Linked DNA regions of Homo sapiens: region 1 is linked to region 2. The links come from fine-mapping of genetic effects on gene expression. A gene starts in region 2. The other region holds a variant in brackets. All regions are shown on one strand. Distances are between the middles of the regions. Region 1 has its middle 20 kb from the start of SIGLEC8. Region 2 holds the start of ETFB (electron transfer flavoprotein subunit beta).

Region 1 (9,008 bases), 72 kb before region 2:
GGAAGGAAGGAGACAAGAAAGAAAGAAAAGGAAGGAAGGAAGGAAAGAAAGAAAAGTAAGCAAGAAAGAAAGAAAGAGAAAGAAAGAAAAAGAAAGAGAAAAACAGACAACCCTCGAGGCACAGGAAGGGCAGCGGGATGACATTTATTGGAGGTAAAAAATCACTGTATTCAGTCCGCTGTCCTCAGACACAGGACACAAACTGAAATCCACAGGGAACCAAAGTGTGGGCTGAAGACGGAGCTGTCTACATAATAGTAAAGAGCACACAAAAAAATTGGATTCTTTTCTCCTACACAACTGCTCACCTACAGGCCGTGGTGACCCGTTTTGCAAGCATGGCAGTGGTGGGCATGGTCTGGCTTTGTAGCTGGCTAGAAAGGAGAACTGTTAGCTTTTTGGCATAATTCTAAGTTCCACACCAAGGATCCTATTTTATCACTTGGGTGGTGAGTAGAGAAACAAACACAAATGCCAACAAAAAATCCGACAAGCTGGTGCCATCCTCACCATTCCCGGCATGAGTGCTGCCTGCACCGCGGCACACACAGTCTCCCCTGCTATGGCTGGTGGGCCAGTTCCGGTTCTTGACTTTGCCTCAAGAAAAGAATTCGAGAGTGAGTCCAAGGTAAAAGTAAGCAAGAGAGTTAATTGCAAAGTGAACGTGCACTCTTAACAGCTGGTCAGAGCGGCTGCTCAAAGGTGAGACAGCGCTGACTGACGCTGGGGAAACTCCCTTTAGGGGAATCTTCCGTGATTACTCATGCGTGGGTGGGACGGTGTTGCTCTTAAGCGTGTTCTGGGTGGTCTGTTAGGCCCGCATGCGCAATGGCTGTACATGCTAGTGCATATACATCGCTGTCTCAGTAGCACCTTAAGTCTCCACGTGAGGGTGTGTTTTCACTATTATAATGAGCATAGGTCAGCCCAAGGACACTACCTAAGCATGGGTTTCTGCACTTGCACGGATATGGGGACTGTCCCTTCTTCCCTTCTACCTCCTTGCTACAGGATGTTTTGACCACGAGCCCAGGATGCGGTTTATGCGCTGTCGGGGTTTGCGAGCTGTCCGGCGGATTGTTCTCTCCGTCTATTTAGCAAATGTGTTTCCCTTTAAGGGAGGCTGTGTAAGGGAGGCTGTGAAACGCCTGTCTAACCTACTTACGCTGCAGCTGCACCAGGGAGCAACACAGAGACTTCACAGGAAAACTGGAAGAAACCACAGACCTTTCTAAAGAAGCGGTGGGCAGCAGCCTACACCACGAGCCAGGCAGAAAACTGTGAGTCCCCACAGTGTGAGAAGGGGAGAGACTGACTCAGGGATGTGTATTCTTTTGTAGCCTTTCCTTCGGGTTGAAGAGCACTTAGGTTGATTCTGTATCTTTCCAATCATTGAATTTTCTCAACTTTTTGCTTTTTCTTCTCCCTCAAGAACACCTATGAGTCTTAGATTTCGGGCAAGTCTACTTTCCCCACTCAAGATGACATTGCAGATCTCAGTCGGGAGCTTCTCTCAACCCGTGACCGCCTCCTGAGTCAGCTAGCTGGCTTCTGCAAGGCCCCCTGTGAGGTAGCATCGGGAATGGCTTCCCTCTGTCCCTGCTGGAGCCCAGGACTGCACGCCAAGCACATCCCAATGTGACTCCTTATCTACTCCCCAACGCTCCCTAACTCAGCTCCAGTGCTGGGCAGGGTGAGGGCTTCCCCCTCCTGTGGCCTGGACTGCGTGGCACCCCAGTGGGAGTGCACATCCCTGAGTCAGTCTCTCCCCTTCTCACACTGTGGGGACTCACAGTTTTCTGTCTGGCTCGTGGTGTAGGCTGCTGCCCACCGTTTCTTTAGAAAGGTCTGTGGTTTCTTCCAGTTTTCCTGTTAAGTTCCTGTGTTGGTCCCTGGTGAAAAGGTCACAACATAAATCTTTATACACTGTTTCATCTTTCCAAGGTGGGAGAGGCCGGCTAACAATGCCTGCAATCTGCCATCCTCTCTTTTCAGTTTTGATGTGTTATATACACTCATGCACATATACATAATGTTTACCAAAGTGGGATCATATTCTTAAATGTCCTTTATTAGGAATTCTGAAACATTAAGGGCAAATTTAATCAGAGGAAGGTGAATATACAGCTCTGAGTGTCTAGCATATATTTACAAAATATCTCAAGTCTTCTGTATCTAGATATAATTACAAAATATCTCTGAAGTCTTCTGTTTTACTCTGAAAGTCCCTATGAATGTTTGTGGCCTATGGAAAAACACGTTTCTGTTAGTTTCAACGGGAAAATAATGCATTCATTGTCACTAAAGTTGTCTGATTGACCTGACTCAGTATTTGAGTATAAATGACATCCCCAGAAGATATGCAAAGTGGACCTTCTGCCTTTAGCTCCTCTGAAGCACTTTTCACGCCCTGCCCTTGGGTCCTGGATCCCCACTGGAGAAGCAACAGCTCTGCACCACTACTGTTAATTATTCATGGCTGCATAGTATTCCACTGAATTTGATGTGTGTTGACTTATTCAACCAATACCCTATTTAGGAGCATTAAGCTTTTTTCAATTTGTTTTGAAACAGGGTCTTGCTCTGTTGCCCAGGCTGGAGTGCAGTGGCATGATCATGGTTCACTGCAGCCTCAACCCTCCAGGCTCAGGCAGTCCTCCTGCCTCAGCCTCCCGAGTAGCTGGGACCACAAGCATGCACTACCATGCCTAGCTAATTTTTTTTTTTTTTTTGTAGAGACAGAGTCTGCCTATGTTGCCCAGGCTGATCTCAAACTCATGGACTCAAGCAATCCTCCCACTTCAGCCTCCTTAAGTGCTGAGATGTAGGCTTGAGCCACTATGCCCAGCCAGTTCTTTCCATTTAAAAAATATATATAGACAATTTTTCCCAGAAGCATATGACGGGATAGACATAATTTTTAGAGCAGTTTAGGTTCACAGATTGAGCAGAAGGTACAGAGATTCTCCATATACCACCTGCCCCCACACATGCATAACCTCCTCTATTATCAGCATCTCCCACCAGAGTGGTACATTTGTCATACTTGATGAACCTCCATTGATACGGTATTAGCACCCAAAGTCCATCGTCTATATCAGGGTTTACTATTTTGTATACACAGCAGCATGCACAGCTTTTGCCTAGTCCGATTTGTAGATCCATGAAGAATCCCAGAAGTAGACTTGTGTGGGAAACACATGAACCTTGCCCAGAGAGAAATCTGGCCTTCTGGAGCACCTTGTCCAAAACCCTGTCTCTTCAGTCAGGAATAGCAGTATCCAGGGCTCACCTGGGGGCGGGTGGCAGCCTGGGGAGCAGACCCAAGGAGCTCTCAATCCATTTCTGGAGCCCAGCTTTGTACCTTCTTACCAAGAGAGCAGAACGTCACAGTCCCTCCCGGGGCAAAGTCCTGCCCGGTGCAGCCAGAGTGCACACTAATGAACAGCCACTCCTCCCCATTTATCAGGCCTGGAGACCAAATGGAATGTTAACCTGGGATTTTTGAGGAGCTGTACACAAGGTGGGGTTCCCTACCTGCTCCCTACCAGCATCCTTGGGGCCCTGTCTAGGCAAACCCCATCACCCCAAATGTATCATATCACTAGGGGGAGCCACAGAGTTGCACAATGCATCAACCCTCATCTTTGTCTACAACCTCTGGTAGGAGTAAGAAGTGGATAGAGAAGGTGAGAGGCAGGACCTCCCAAACGGCTTCCAGAGAAAATGGGAGTGGGAAAAAAAAGTGACATTAACAATAGCAATAACATTACCAATAACCTCAGATAGTAACTACTTCCTGTAGTTACCATTCCTGTTTGGTAAGATTGTAAATCTTTGTTTTTGGGGGTTTGTTTTTTGTTTGTTTAGTTTTTTTTTTTTTCTTCTTCTTTTTTGAGACAGAGTTTCTCTCTCGTTGTCCAGGCTGGAGTGCAATGGCGCGATCTCGGCTCACTGCAACCTCTGACTCTCAGGTTCAAGCGATTCTGTCGCCTCAGCCTCCCAAAATAGCTGGGATTGCAGGCGCCTGCCACAACGCCCAGCTACTTTTTGTATTTTTAGTAGAGATGGGGGTTTCCCTATGTTGGCCAGGCTCGTCTCGAACTCCTGACCTCAGGTGATCCGCCCGCCTCGGGCTCCCAAAGTGCTGGGATTACAGGCGTGAGCCACCGCACCCGGGGAGTTTGTAAATCTTGACATAGGTTAGTCTCTGAGTGACAGGGTGGGAGTCAGGTGTCAAGAAGCATTTGGGAGTCAAAAAGGGTGGAGGAGATTGGTGCAGGGATCCTGGCAAATCTCTGGGTGAGCAGCAGGGGGCGCCCTGATCAGGGCAGGGAATGTTGAGTTGGATACACAGCCATAAGGGGGTGTCATGGGGCTGTGGGAAGTCCACGGACTCTGCCTCAGAAGGGAAATTACTTGATCTCTGTATGCCTCAGCGTCCTCATCTGCAAAGTGGACATCAGAGCTCCTACATTTATTAGCCTGAGAACAAAAA[C/T]CAGGCAGAATAAATGAACAACCACAGCAGCAACAACAAACAAGAACAAGAGCCAAAAGCAAACAGAGAGATGAGCCCTTATATCATCGGACCCTGAAATCCAGCCACCGTTGAAGCCAGGTCTACCCCTCTGATTTCCAAGACAACAGAAATCAATGCTTTTTTTCATTAAAAGCCAAAAAAAAAAAAAAAAGCATGCTATAACATTGAATAGAAACAACTATGATTTTGAATGTGAATATTAATTATACTCTTGTGGTTCCTGGGCATTGCCTGATGCATGAATTGTGGGAGAGGCAATGAGAGCTGCTACAAAGCCCTATGGAGATGGAGATCATGCAGCAAATGGCCAAGGGCCATGAGCCTTAGAAAACCTGTCCTGGGGTCGGGCGCGGTGGCTCACGCTTATAATCCCAGCACTTTGGGAGGCCGAGGTGGGCGGATCACAAGGTCAAGAGATGGAGACCATCCTGGCCAGCATGGTGAAACCCTGTCTCTACTAAAAATACAAAAATTAGCTGGGCATGGTGGTGCGCGCCTGGAGTTCCAGCTACTCGGTAGGCTGAGGCAGGAGAATCGCTTGAACCAAGGAGGTGGAGGTTGAAGTGAGCCGAGATCGCACCACTGCACTCCAGCCTGAGTGACAGAGTGAGACTCCGTCTAAAAAGGAAAAGAAAAGAAAAGGAAAGGAAAAAAGAAAGCCATACACAGTGGCTCACATCTGTAATCCCAGCACTTTGGGAGGTCAAGGCAAGTGGATCATTTGAGCCCAGGAGTTGGAGACTAGCCTGGGAAACATGGCAAAACACCATCTCTAAAAAATAGGAAAAAAGAGAAAACCTGTCCTTATAAATTATGATGGCATCTCTACATGCAAACCTGTCTCCAGAGAAGGCACATTCCCATCCGCTCAATGCTGCTCATCCTCCTTAAGGAACTGAATAAAGCTGGGCATGATGGCTCACACCTGTAATTCCAGCATTTTGGGAGGCCAAGCTGGGAGGATTACTTGAGGCCAGGAGTTTGAGACCAGCCTGGCCAACATAGCAAAACCTCATCTCTACCAAAAATTCAAAAAACTAGTGGGACGTGGTGACACACGACTGTAATCCCAGCTAGTTGGGAGGCTGAGGTACAAGAATCTCTTGAACCAAGGAGGTTGAGGCTGCAGTGAGTCAAGATCATGCCACTGCACTCCTGCCTGGGTGACAGAGACTCTGGCTTGAAAAAAAGAAAGAAATTGAATGAGCTTTTTGCCCAGTGAGGAAAGATTTCTTGTATGTAAATTCATGTGCTCTTCCTTGTTCATCAAAAGTTATTTTCTGTACACTTCACATTCTCATTGATTACTAAGAGAAATTCCTCGTACATATCAAGCTTAATTAGCTTGTACTCTATGCCCGAATATCCCTATGTGTCTCACCATGGGGTGATTCCCTGTCCACCTTACCTTTTGAGCTTAAATCTTCCTTGGCGAAATCAGAATAACCTCAAATGAGAGCATAATTTCCTACTAATTCCATGTGCAGCCTCATATTTTCTCTGTTTCAACTTCAAAGTGTTATTTATTTTAGTTCCGAAAGGATGTGTTTCTTCATATTTTCATTTAGAAACAAGGAATAGAATCTAATTGTTGGACAAAAGTCAGAGATGGAAATTCTTATAAAAAATCCTCCTTTCTTTGTCAACAAGCCCAATGTACCCTGAGAATCATTCTTATCATGGATATCGAGTGTGGGAATAGGTCAATGGGGGATTGAACCTTGAACTTCTGAGGGTTTGAACCCAGAAGTTCAAACTCCAGTCAACCTATTCGCTCATAAAAACATGGAGGAAAGAACTGGATGTGGCTCCTCGTGGCTGTCGGGAAGATGCTGTTGGAGCTTACAGGATGGAGGTGTTGCTCTCCCTTTCAGCTGCAGGAACGGCATGAGCCTTGAGCTGGGGAGACCTCACATTGCACGAACATTGCTAGCCAGAGAATGAAGATGGCTCAGGCACCTGCAGCCCACCATGCGGAGAGCAAGAAACAGCACCCTGAGGGTCACATTGGATATCAGTGATGTGCTGATCTTGACCTTGAGTTAGGAGATGTTCCCAGATTCCCCACTGCCTGGGCCAAAAATTAAGCAAACGTGTTTTTTTAATAAAACCCTTCTTTTCCAGATTAAGCTATCGGTTTTCATTTCTGTTCCTTGCAATTTAAAAAAATGAGATTATCGAAAAAATGAGCAGAGGCTTTGCTGTAAGAAATTTCTATATAGATTTTTTTTCCGCATGATTATTTGTTGATCTAAACTCATGGCATGGGAGATGACAAGGTTTCAGTAAAATGCCTGTTATGAACTGCATGTTTATGTTCCCCCAAAATTCATATGTTGAAGCCCTAACCACCAATGTGATGTATTTGGAGATGGGGCTTTTTGTAGGTAATTATGTTACATGGGGTCATGAGGGTGGGGACCCACTATGGAATTAGTGCCTGATATGGTTTGGCTGTGTCCCCACCCAAATCTCATCATGAATTTCCACGTGTTGTGGGAGGGACATTGCGGCTGGTAATTGAATCATGGAGGCAGGTCTTTCCTGTGCTGTTCTCATGATAGTGAATAATTCTCACAAGATTGATGGTTTTAAAAAGGGGAGTTTCCCTGCACAAGCTCATCTCTTGTCTGCCGCCATATGAGACATGACTTTCACCTTCTGCCATGATTGTGAGGCTTCTCCGGCCACGTGGAACTGTAAGTCCATTAAACCTCTTTCTTTGGTAAATTGCCCAGTCTCAGGTATGTCATTACCAGCAGTGTGAAAACGGACTAATACAGTGCCCTTATAAGCAGAGACCCCACAGAACTTGCTGTCTCTCAACCATGTGAGGACACAGTGAGAAGGTGGCATCTACAAGCCAGGAAACAGAGCCTCACAAGAAAACAAATCATCTGACAACTTGATCTTCTAACCTTGGACTTCTAACCTCCAGAATTGTGAGAAATAAATTTCTGTTGTTTATAGGAGGCTTAATTTATAGTATTTTGCTATGGCAGCCCAGACTAGCTAACACAGTGCCCTAACCACATGTATTCCATGTGGCTACAGTATTCTCTGCACAGTGGCCAAGTATGGTGGCTCATGCCTGTAATCCCAGCACTTTGGGAGGCTGAGGCTGGTGGATCACTCGAGGTCAGGAGTTCGAGACCAGCCTGGCCAACATGGTGAAACCTGGTCTCTACCAAAAATGCAAAAGTTAGCTGGGTGTGGCGGCGGGCGTCTGTAATCCCAGCTACTCAGGAGGCTGAGGCAGGAGAATCACTTGAACCTGGGAGGCGGAGGTTGCAGTGAGCTGAGATCGCACCACTGCACTCCAGCCTGGGCAACAGAGTGAGACTGTCTCAAAAAAAATTATACAAAGACACTTTATTTGTAAGGTAATATTTAGAAGTTCAAGGAGCTGAGACTGTATTTCTTTGGGTGGCCATTATTCAGCTTGCTGAGCTGTCCATGTGATCTCTTATGCATTGGAACTCTTGTGCATTGCTGATGGGAAAGTTAAATGGTGAAGTTGCTCTAGAGAGTAGTAGTGGGGTTCCTCAAAAAAATTAAAAATAGAATGATCTTATGATCCAGCAATTTCACCTCTGGGTATATGGCCCAAAAGATCAAAAGCCGGAACTTGAGCATAGTTTTATGCATCTGTGTTCACAGAAGCATATTCACAGTAGGTAAAAGGGAAAAGCAACCCTGCTATTCCTAAAAAGTGAATGAATAAACAAAGTGTATTGTATACATGCAATTGAATATTACTCAGCCTTAAAATAGAAGGAGAAGCTGGGCTGGGGCATGGTGGCTCACGCCTGTAATCCCAGCACTTTGGGAGGCCGAGGTGGGCATATCACTTGAAGTCAGGAGTTCTAGACCAGCCTGGCCCACATGATGAAACCCCATCTCTGCTAAAAATATAAAAATTAGCCAGGCATGATGACATGTGCCTGTAATCCCAGGTACTCGGGAGACTGAGGCAGCAGAATCGCTTGAACCTGGGAGGCAGAGGTTTCAGTGAGCCCAATCATGCCACTGCACTGCAGCCTGGGCAACAGAGCAAGACCCTATCTCAAAAAAAAAGAAAAAGAAAAAGAAAACAAAAAACAAAACAAACAAAAAAACCAAGGAGACAGGCATGGTGGCTCACACCTGTAATCCCAGCACTTTGGGAGGCCGAGGCAGGTGGATCACCTGAGGTCAGGAGTTCGAGACCAGCCTGGCCAATATGGTGAAACCCCATCTCTACTAAAAAAAAAAAAAAAAAGAAAAGAAAATACAGGCCGGGCACGGTGGCTCACGCCTGTAATCCCAGCACTTTGGGAGGCCGAGGCGGGTGGATCACCTGAGGTCAGGCATTTGAGAGCAGCCTGACCAACATGGTGAAACCCTATCTCTACTAAAAATACAAAATTAGCCAGGTGTGGTGGCACGTACCTGTGATCCCAGCTACTCGGGAGGCTGAAGCAGGAGA
Region 2 (9,008 bases):
GAGGAGGCACTTACAGACCAGAAGCAGTTAATACAGGCCAGACAGCAGTCCCAGTGCAGGGAGAATGCCGGAAAAAGACTGACCATATTGTGGAGGGATGGAGACGACTTTTCTGGAGAGAGAACATTTAGGAGCTTCTTAAGGGCCAGGGAAAGGTAATATCCAGGCAGAGGGGCCCAAAGATGAACGTGCAGAAAAGTCAGGAGTCTTGTGGGGATGAAGATCGGTAATTTAGGGTCAGGATATAGAATGTGGGGGGCGGGGGATGGAAAATGAAGAGGGAGAGGCAGGTGGGGGCTGTGGCCTCTAATGTCATGCTGGACTTTCTCTTGAACATGATGGGGAGTTGGGAGAAAAATTGTGGGCAGGGGAGGGACAGTGTCAGCTCTGGGTGCCAGAAAGACCCCCCTGTAGACATGGAGGGGAGGCCAGAAGGTGAGGGAGGAACTTGGCAATGCAATAGGTGGGACATGATGAGGCCTGACCTGGGACCAGGAAAGGAGGGAATGAGCCAGACAGATTCAGGGGCAGGAGGAGCAGGACTTAGGGACCCAAGGCTTTTCAGGGTGAAGGGCAAGAAGAAGGTGAGGACAGTGCCCAAGGGTCTGGCTCGATGAACTGGATGGGATGGCAGGGCCATCCCTAATATGGTGGAAGACACTAAGCTCAGTTGGAATATGGTTGACTATTAAGGCCCTGAGGGGCAGCCAGGAGCAGGTGAGAACTTGAGTCAGGCTCAGGGGAGAGACCTTGGGTTGGAGATGGAGTTTTGGATGGAGCATTAAGGAGCACTGAAACTTTGGCCGTGAGGAGGCTTGCCTGGCAAGAGAGTGCAGGGTGGAGCTTCAAGGGATACCCAGATTTACAAGTGAAGGGGAGAAGGCAGAGGAGCAGAAGTCTGCAGTCAGACAGCTGGGGACCTGGAGAGCTTCTGCGGTGCCTAGAATGTCAAGGGAAGAGAAGGTTGTTTTTTTTTTTTGAGACGGAGTCTTGTTCTATCACCCAGGCTGGAGTGCAGTGGTGTGATCTTGGCTCACTGCAACCTCTGCCTCCCGGGTTCAAGCAATTCTCCTCCCTCAGCCTCTTGAGTAGCTGGGATTACAGGCGTGCGCCACCATACCTGGCTAATTTTGTCTTTTTTTTTTTTTTTTTGAGATGGAGTCTTGCTCTGTCGCCCAGGCTAGAATGCAATGGCGCGATCTCAGCTAACTGCAACCTCCACCTCCCGGGTTCAAGTGATTCTCCTGCCTCGCATCCCCAGTAGCTGGGATTATAGGCACCTGCCATCACCCCCGGCTAGCCTGGCTAATTTTTGTATTTTTAGTAGAGACGGGGTTTTGCCATGTTGGTCAGGCTTGTCTCAAACCCCTGACTTCAGGTGATCTGCCCGCCTCGGCCTCCTAAAGTGCTGGGATTACAGGCGTGAGCCACTGCGCACCCGGCCAAGGGAAAGAGAAGTTTCTAAGAAAGGGCTGGGAGTGGTGGCTCACATCCATAATGTCAGCATTTTGGGAGGCCAAGGTAGGAGGATCGCTTGAGCCCAAGAGTTTGAGATCAGATTGGGCAACATAGCAAGACCCCATCTCTACAAAAAATCTTAAGAAAATTAGCCAGGTGTGGTGGCACATGCCTGTAGTCCCAGCTACTCAGGAGGCCGAGGCAGGAGGTTTCCTTGAGCCCAGGAGTTCAAGGCTGCAGTGAGCTGTGATGGTGCCACTGCACTCCAGCCTGGGAGAGAGAGATGGCTCACGCCTGTAATCCCAGCACTTTGGGAGGCTGAGGCAGGCAGATCACAAGGTCAGGAGTCCAAGACCAGCCTGGCCAATATGGTGAAACCCCGTCTCTACTAAAAATACAAAAATTAGCCAGATGTGGTGGTGTGCGCCTGCAGTCCCAGCTACTTGTGAGGCTGAGGCAGAAGAATTGCTTGAACCCAGGAGGTGGAGGTTGCAGTGAGCCGAGATCGTGCCACTGCGCTCCAGCCTGGGTGACAGAGCAAGACTCCATCTCAAAAAATAATAATGATAATAATGATAAAAGAAGGACTCGGCCTATCATGTAACGGCCCCCAAAGCTGAGATCTGAATCTAAGCAGTCACTCAGTTGAGAGCTGCGGGGGTGTATGCGATGGTGGTGGGGGGAGTGATTATCCCTTTAAACAGCCACTGGGGGAGGGGGTTCTGGAACCCCTGGCCTCACAGAGACCCAGCCTCCCTCCCCCCGTCTCTCTGGGCTCTGTGTCTAAGGAGCCCTAGGGCACTGGGTGTGAGTCACTTAGGTGGGCCTGTGTGGAGGGGTGTCTGGGGAGGACATTGAACAGGCTGGGCTGAAAGGGCGTTCGGCTGTCGGGGGAGGTCTCTGGGAAGACAGGTTCCTCACAGCAAAGCCTGTGGTGAAGGTCTCAGAGGCCTCTCAGGGGAAGTCTCAAGGTCTCCAGTAAGGGGAACGAGGTCTGGAGGGAGGAGGTTGTGGATCCTCAGGCAGGGTTGTTGAGGGAGGGGGGTCTCCAGGTCCCCAGAAGCAGGGACCTCAGGCAGGAGTACCAGGGGAGGAGTGTGGAGGAAGCGGGCTCCTCAGCTGGGGGCCTCGGGGTAGGAAAGGCCTGGGCCCATCCTGCCCTTGTGGCCCCCGGCTGCAGCCTCAGTGGCATGGGGGTGAAGCGGAGCCTCCAGAGTGGGGGCATTCTGCTCAGCCTCGTGGCCAACGTCCTCATGGTGCTCTCCACGGCCACCAACTACTGGACCCGCCAACAAGAGGGCCACAGTGGCCTGTGGCAGGAATGCAACCACGGCATCTGCTCCAGCATCCCCTGCCAGAGTGAGGCTCCGCCCGCCCAGATGTCAGAGGGCATTTCAGACCCCCAGGGCTCGGGACACACAGCTGGGCCCATGGCGAGACGCCCACCCCTTCCACCCCGGGCTCAGTTGCAGCTGTCCCTTGTCGGCCGAGGCCGCCACGAACCCCGCCCCTCGACTTGTGGGCTTGTCCCCGACCCCCTCCCCGTCCTGGTAGCGGCAGTAACCGCAGGTCCTGATGTGACCTCCAAGTCTCAATCCAAACGCCTGACTCCCGGTCGGTGGAGCTCGGCTCCTGGCCACACACCGGGTTGGGGGCAGGAGACGGGAGAGCTTCCGGTTGCGGCCGAACCCGTAGTGACTGGGGCGGCGCCCGCGGGGGCTGATGCGCCCGCTCTCCCCAGCCACGCTGGCGGTGACTGTGGCGTGCATGGTGCTGGCGGTGGGTGTCGGCGTGGTGGGCATGGTGATGGGACTGCGGATTCGGTGCGACGAGGGCGAGTCGCTGCGGGGCCAGACCACGAGCGCCTTCCTCTTCCTCGGCGGTGAGACTGCAGACCGCCCCAGGCGGGCAGGCAGGGGCGGGCCCTGGGTGATGGAGGGGCCTGGTCGCCAGGGGAGGGGCTTGAGGTACTCGGCCAGGATCCGAGGGGCAGGGCTGGAAGAAGCCGAGAGAGGTGGGCGGGGCTCGAGACAGAGTTCAGAGCGGGAGGAGCAGGAAGGGGCCTGGGCCAGGGGCGGGCTGAGAGGCGATAGGCGTGGTCTGATAGAAGGGGGCGGGTCTGAAGGGGCGTGGCCTGGGTGCAGCCCCCACCAGGCCCAGCTAGCTCATCTTGCGGCTGGGCGGGGCCCAGGACTGCTGCTGCTGACCGCCTTGATAGGCTACACCGTGAAGAATGCGTGGAAGAACAACGTCTTCTTCTCTTGGTCCTATTTTTCTGGGTGGCTGGCCTTACCCTTCTCAATTCTCGCGGGTAAACTGGACAGCGGGAAGAGGGTGGAGGAGACTGCCCAGAAGACCCTCACCCCAGAGGCTCCCCAGCTGCCCTCCCAGGAAACCCCGGGGACCTCTCGGGGACTCCCCAACACACTAACGACTCCCGCAGACCCGGCAGAGACCCCCTTGGAGCCCCAAACCCCAGTCCCCGGGGCCCTCCCGGCCATCCGCCCCAGGGCCCACCTTCCTCTCCCTGCTCCGCACCCCCGTCCCCCCAGGCTTCTGCTTTCTGCTGGCAGACATGATCATGCAGAGCACCGACGCCATCAGTGGATTCCCCGTGTGTCTGTGACTGCAGCCTGCCTGGGGCAGAATAAAGGAACGGCTTTTTTTAGCGCTGCGGCTCCGCGTGCTTTTCTGCGGGTCGTGGGGACGCAGGCACGGGGTTGCATAGAGGCTCAGGGAAGACATAAGGACATGAACTCATAGGGAACGTGGAGACAGGGAGACACAGACATGGAGACACAAGTCTCCATGGATTGGGATGGGAACAGGGACATGTGGGAGGGGCGGGGCCAGGAGGGGACGTGGGCCTTTGGAGAGGGTGTGGAGAGGCTGTGGGGACGACATGGAGGTGAAGTAGAGACACGGACAGGGGAGGATACGGATATGGAAGGGACAGGGAACACGGGGATGGAGAGAGTGGAGAGACCGACGCGCGAGGATTCAGAGGCGTGGGAATACGAGTACCGCGACTTGGAGAGGCCGGGAAGAAGTGGGGGATCTGGAGAGGGAGAGCAGATCCGGGGATACCGGGAAGTGTTTATAGGACCGGGAGGATCTATAAACTCCGGGCGCGCTTCCCTCCAGTGCACGACCTTTCCCCTAGTTCTCTGCCCTGCCCTCTCCGCCAGGCCTTTCCTTCTCTCTCCAGGTCCCGCTCGCTCCCCGAGATCCGCTTCCCATTGGTTTGCATTGCTTGCCACACCTCCCTTCCTTCCGGCCTCTCGATTGGTCCTCTGTCGGGGAGGCGGGCTCTGCAGCGGTTGACTGGCTGACCGTGCTGCGCGCAGGCGCAGAGAGGGGCGCGGGGGGCGGGGGTGGTGGGGCTTCTGGACTGAGCCGCTGAGGGTGCGGGCTGACCCTGTAAGTGGCTGCGGCGGGAAGATGGCGGAGCTGCGCGTGCTCGTAGCTGTCAAGAGGGTCATCGACTACGCCGTGAAGGTGATCGGGCCCCCCTCTCCCACATCCCTGAGTCCCGCAGCCGTGTGCTTCCGGGGCCACGAGCGCACACTGGGTGGGGGTCTTCTCGTAACCCCCGACCTCTGCCGCTTTAACCCCCAAACGTCAAAGTCACCTGAGGGCAAAAATCCAAGAGTGAAGTTCTAACATCCGATCCCTCCGGGGTCACGGCCATGTTCTCTTTTCCCTCGTTCTGGATTCACTCTCTTGATAACTGTTCAGAGTGAGTTGCTTTCTCTATTTCTTACCCACTGGAAGAAGTCACGGTCCCTGTTTAATGCACGGAGAAACTGAGGCACAGAGAGGTCACCCAGCTAGAGAAGGGCAGAGCCGAGAGTTCTATCCAGGTTCCTCTGACTGCTTTCACCCACTAGGCTGCATTACTTACCATTGTACTCTTATATTACCCGAAATGTGCTATAGAGGGAGTCAGACAGGGTCCTGTGGGGCCCCAGAAGCTGCTTTCCACCCTCCATAGCCACAGGGTGAGCCAGGAGGCTCTAGCTAGGGAGAGAGAAGTGTGTTTGCTAGAGATGAAAGTTCAAGGAGCCAACCTGACTGAGCTGGGGGTAGCTCACATTCTCCATGAAAGAGGTGGGGGAGGGTGCTCTCAGCGCCTGGCTTGTTGTCCCCAGAGGGAAGCTGGTGTGGACAGAGGTGAATCAGACACGGTCTCTCAGGCCCGTTTCTCTCAATGCTTGGCCTGAACTGGACTGAAGATGGTGACTGTCTGTCCATGTCTGTCCTTCCCATCAGCCTGGGGACTTACCTCCGTGTCCCCAGCATTACCTAGCGCAGGGCCTGGCACCCTGGAGGCCTCAGGGTGGGCAAAACCAGGGTCACAAAGTTGACACTGATACTGCCCCTGCCTGCTTAGGGAGTGGGCTGGGGAAGAGGGTACAGGAGCCAGACTTGAGCATGAAAGTGTCAGTGATGATAGCAGCCAGCATTTAGCGGGTACTTACGTGGCAGGCATCGTTCCAAGTCCTTTGCAGAGATTAACCCATTCAGTCCTTTCAGTACCCTTTGTATTATTTATTATTTATTTTTATTTTTTGAGACGGAGTTTTGCTCTTTTTGCCCAGGCTGGAGTGCAATGGCGCAGTCTTGGCTCACTGCAACCTCAGCCTCCCGAGTTCAAGCAATTCTCCTACCTCAGCCTCCCAGGTAGCTGGGATTACAGGCATGTGCCACCACACCTGGCTAATTTTTTGTATTTTTAGTAGAGATGGGGTTTCACCATGTTGGTCAGGCTGGTCTCAAACTCCAGACCTCAGGTGATCCACCCGCCTGCCTCGGCCCCCCAAAGTGCTGGGATTACAGGTGTGAGCCACCGTGCCTGGCCGACCCTTTGTATTATTAATTCCATTGGATAGATGAGGAAACTGAGGCCTGTCAGATCTCCCAGCCAGTAAGTGGCAGAGTTACGATCGAAACCCCGGGCAAGTCTGGCTCTAGACTCTGCTCTCCCATCTCCCTCAATGCCCCCTGTCCTAATGATGCCTCTGGCAGCACATGACAGGGATGTCACCTGTAGCCCTTTTGAGACACATTCCTCTTGGGGTCCTGGGACCCAACACTTGGTTTCCTCCCTGCTCTGACTGTTCGTTACTGTCACATCTTTGGAGTCCTACAGCTCCCTGGGCCTCTTCTCTCCATCCCAGCCCTGGCCTTCCACGCCTGGCATGTCTGGGATTGGATCCGTCTCCCCCATGGTGCAGGCCCACGTTTGACTCAGCTCTGGTCCCAGCATCACTCAGCACAGAGCCTGGCACATGGATGTCTCTGGTGTGCTCAGGGAGAGAACAGAGGGGAAGCGTGAAGGCCGCGTTGAATCAGCTACTGTCCTTTCCAGAGGGTGCTGCCTTCCCCTCCCGCAGTGCCCCAGGGCTCCCTGCATTACATCCTGTCTCACTGGATGTGTCTGTTGATGTCCTTTTCAGAACAAATAAATGATTCAGACCCTGCCAGCTTCCTAAACACCAGATTAGACCTGGGTACTGTCCCACCCTCTTTCCCTTCTCCCAAAGCTGTCAGTTCTCCACCCCCCACCCTTCTTGCCCTATTGTCTCTTGGTGTCATTGTCTCACCTGGACCCTCACCCGGGTCCTCCCTCACTCCCAGTCTCTCCCTCTCAGCCCACCTCTACCCAGCCTTAGGGGCCTTTCTGCACCCAGAGCTCACCCTGCTCTCCCCTGCTCCCAGCCTGCCTGTGGCTCCCCAGCACCCTCAGGACAGAGTCGCAGCCCCTCTGCCTGGCATTTGGGATGCTTTGTGGTCCAGCCTCCTCTTCATGGTCTGCTTCAGCCGTCCACTTCCCTCCTTGGACCCTCCCTTACCCTTTGTGCTTCTGCCACTGTGACCTGCTCCTCCTGTCCTGACAGACCAGGCCGCGGCTTGCCCGTTCCATGCCTTCTTCCAGCACCACCCTCCTACCTCTGCTTTCTGTCCTTTGTCCTGCCCAACTCCAACTCATGGATTATATCAAAATCTAGTGATTCTCGGCCAGGCGCGGTGGCTCACACCTCTAATCCCTGCACTTTGTGAGGCTGAGGCGAGTGGATCAGTTGAGGTCAGGAGTTTGAGACCAGCCAGGCCAACATGGTGAAACCCCATCTCTCCTAAAAATAAAAAAATTAGCCAGGCATGGTGGCACGTATCTGTAGTCCCAGCTACTCGGGAGGCTGAGGCAGGAGAATCGCTTGAACCTGGGAGGCAGAGGTTGCAGTGAGCCAGGATTGTGTCCCTGTACTCCAGCCTGGGTGACAGAGCTAGACTCAGTCTCAAAATAATAATAATAATAATTTAGTGATTCTCCCTGGCATCGCCTCCTCCAGGAAGCCCCTGACCCTACACCCTCAGGTTGCCTTGGTATATCCCTGGGGGCTTCTGCAGTCCCTAGATTTGCTTCCATCAGCCCTCGCCAGACTGGATTGGGATCCTCTGTTTACCCCATGTTCCCCACTGCCCTACTCCATCATCCCCAGGCTGGTAGCTCCCTGCAGAGAGGGGCCATGTCTGATCCACCTCTGTTCCCAGAATCACGTGCTCACTCCCTGACCTCTTTCACCTCCTTTTCAAACATCACCTTCTCTGGGAGGACTTCCCTGCTTGCCTCCTTAAAATCACAGGCCCCAGGTCCCTGTGTTTTGCTGTGTTTTCCCCTATACTTAGCAACTAGAAAGGGAGAGGAAAGTATGTTTGCTAGAGATGAAAGTTCAAGGAGCCAACCTAACTGAGTGGAGGGAGTGACTCACATTCTCCATGAAGGAGGTGGGAGCAGGGGCACCCTCTGAGAGCCCAGCTTGTCCCCAGAGGGAAGCTGGTGTGGACACTTTGTAATCCACAGTGTTGTTTACTTATTGATTGCTCTGGTGTCTGTCGCCCCTTCTGGAATTTGAGCTCCAGGTGTGGGGGAGACAGTTTGATGTGGTCACTGCTTCCTGAGACAGTGGGTTCACTACTAGAATAGTGCAGACCTCAGACTCCAAGCCCAGCGCCTGCGTCCACTTCCTGCTGTGTGACCTTGAGGAAATTGCTTCACCACTCTAAGCCTCATTTTTCTACTCTGTACAATGGGGATGATGGTACTATCTACTTTATTGAGTTGTAATGAAAATTAAATAAGCCCTTGGAACAGTGCCTGGCACACAGTGGTTTGTTTTGTTTTATTTTTTGAGACGGAGTCTATCTCTGTTGCCCAGGCTGGAGTGCAGTGGCATGATCTCAGCTCACTGGAACCTCCACTTCCCAGGTTCAAGCAACTCTGCCTCAGCCTCCTGAGTAGCTGGGATTACACGTGTGAGCCACCACGCCTGGCTAATTTTTGTATTTTTAGTAGAAACGAGGTTTTGCTATGTTAGCCAGGCTGGTCTAGACCTCCTGACCTCAGGTAATCCACCCGCCTCAGCCTCCCAACGTGCTGGGATTACAGGTGTGAGCCACTGTGACCAGCTGCAATAAGTGTTTTTATTGGGAGTAGTAGTAATGGATGTTTAGTTAGTCATTTATTCAAAACATAACAAATGCTGTGC

What was found.
Region 1: its variant is fine-mapped to the expression of ETFB in whole blood (TOPMed, PIP 0.98).

What each region holds. Positions count from the first base shown.
Region 1 is chr19:51,433,734-51,442,741 of GRCh38, reverse strand. No RefSeq gene overlaps it. Among named protein-coding and RNA genes, the nearest start is that of SIGLEC8, 20 kb to the left of the region's middle. RefSeq lists enhancers at 690-829, 1,130-1,419 and a silencer at 3,940-4,110. The variant C/T (reference allele first, on the strand shown) is at 4,499.
Region 2 is chr19:51,362,218-51,371,225 of GRCh38, reverse strand. It overlaps ETFB (electron transfer flavoprotein subunit beta), which reads left to right and starts at 4,838. Exons shown (of 6, transcript NM_001985.3): 1 at 4,838-4,956. The coding sequence starts at 4,900. It overlaps CLDND2 (claudin domain containing 2), which reads left to right and starts at 2,223. Exons shown (of 4, transcript NM_152353.3): 1 at 2,223-2,817; 2 at 3,200-3,340; 3 at 3,650-3,769; 4 at 4,011-4,128. The coding sequence starts at 2,649. The coding sequence ends at 4,084. RefSeq lists enhancers at 2,653-2,702, 3,113-3,212, 2,354-3,313, 4,272-5,231 and silencers at 3,393-3,722, 3,993-4,042.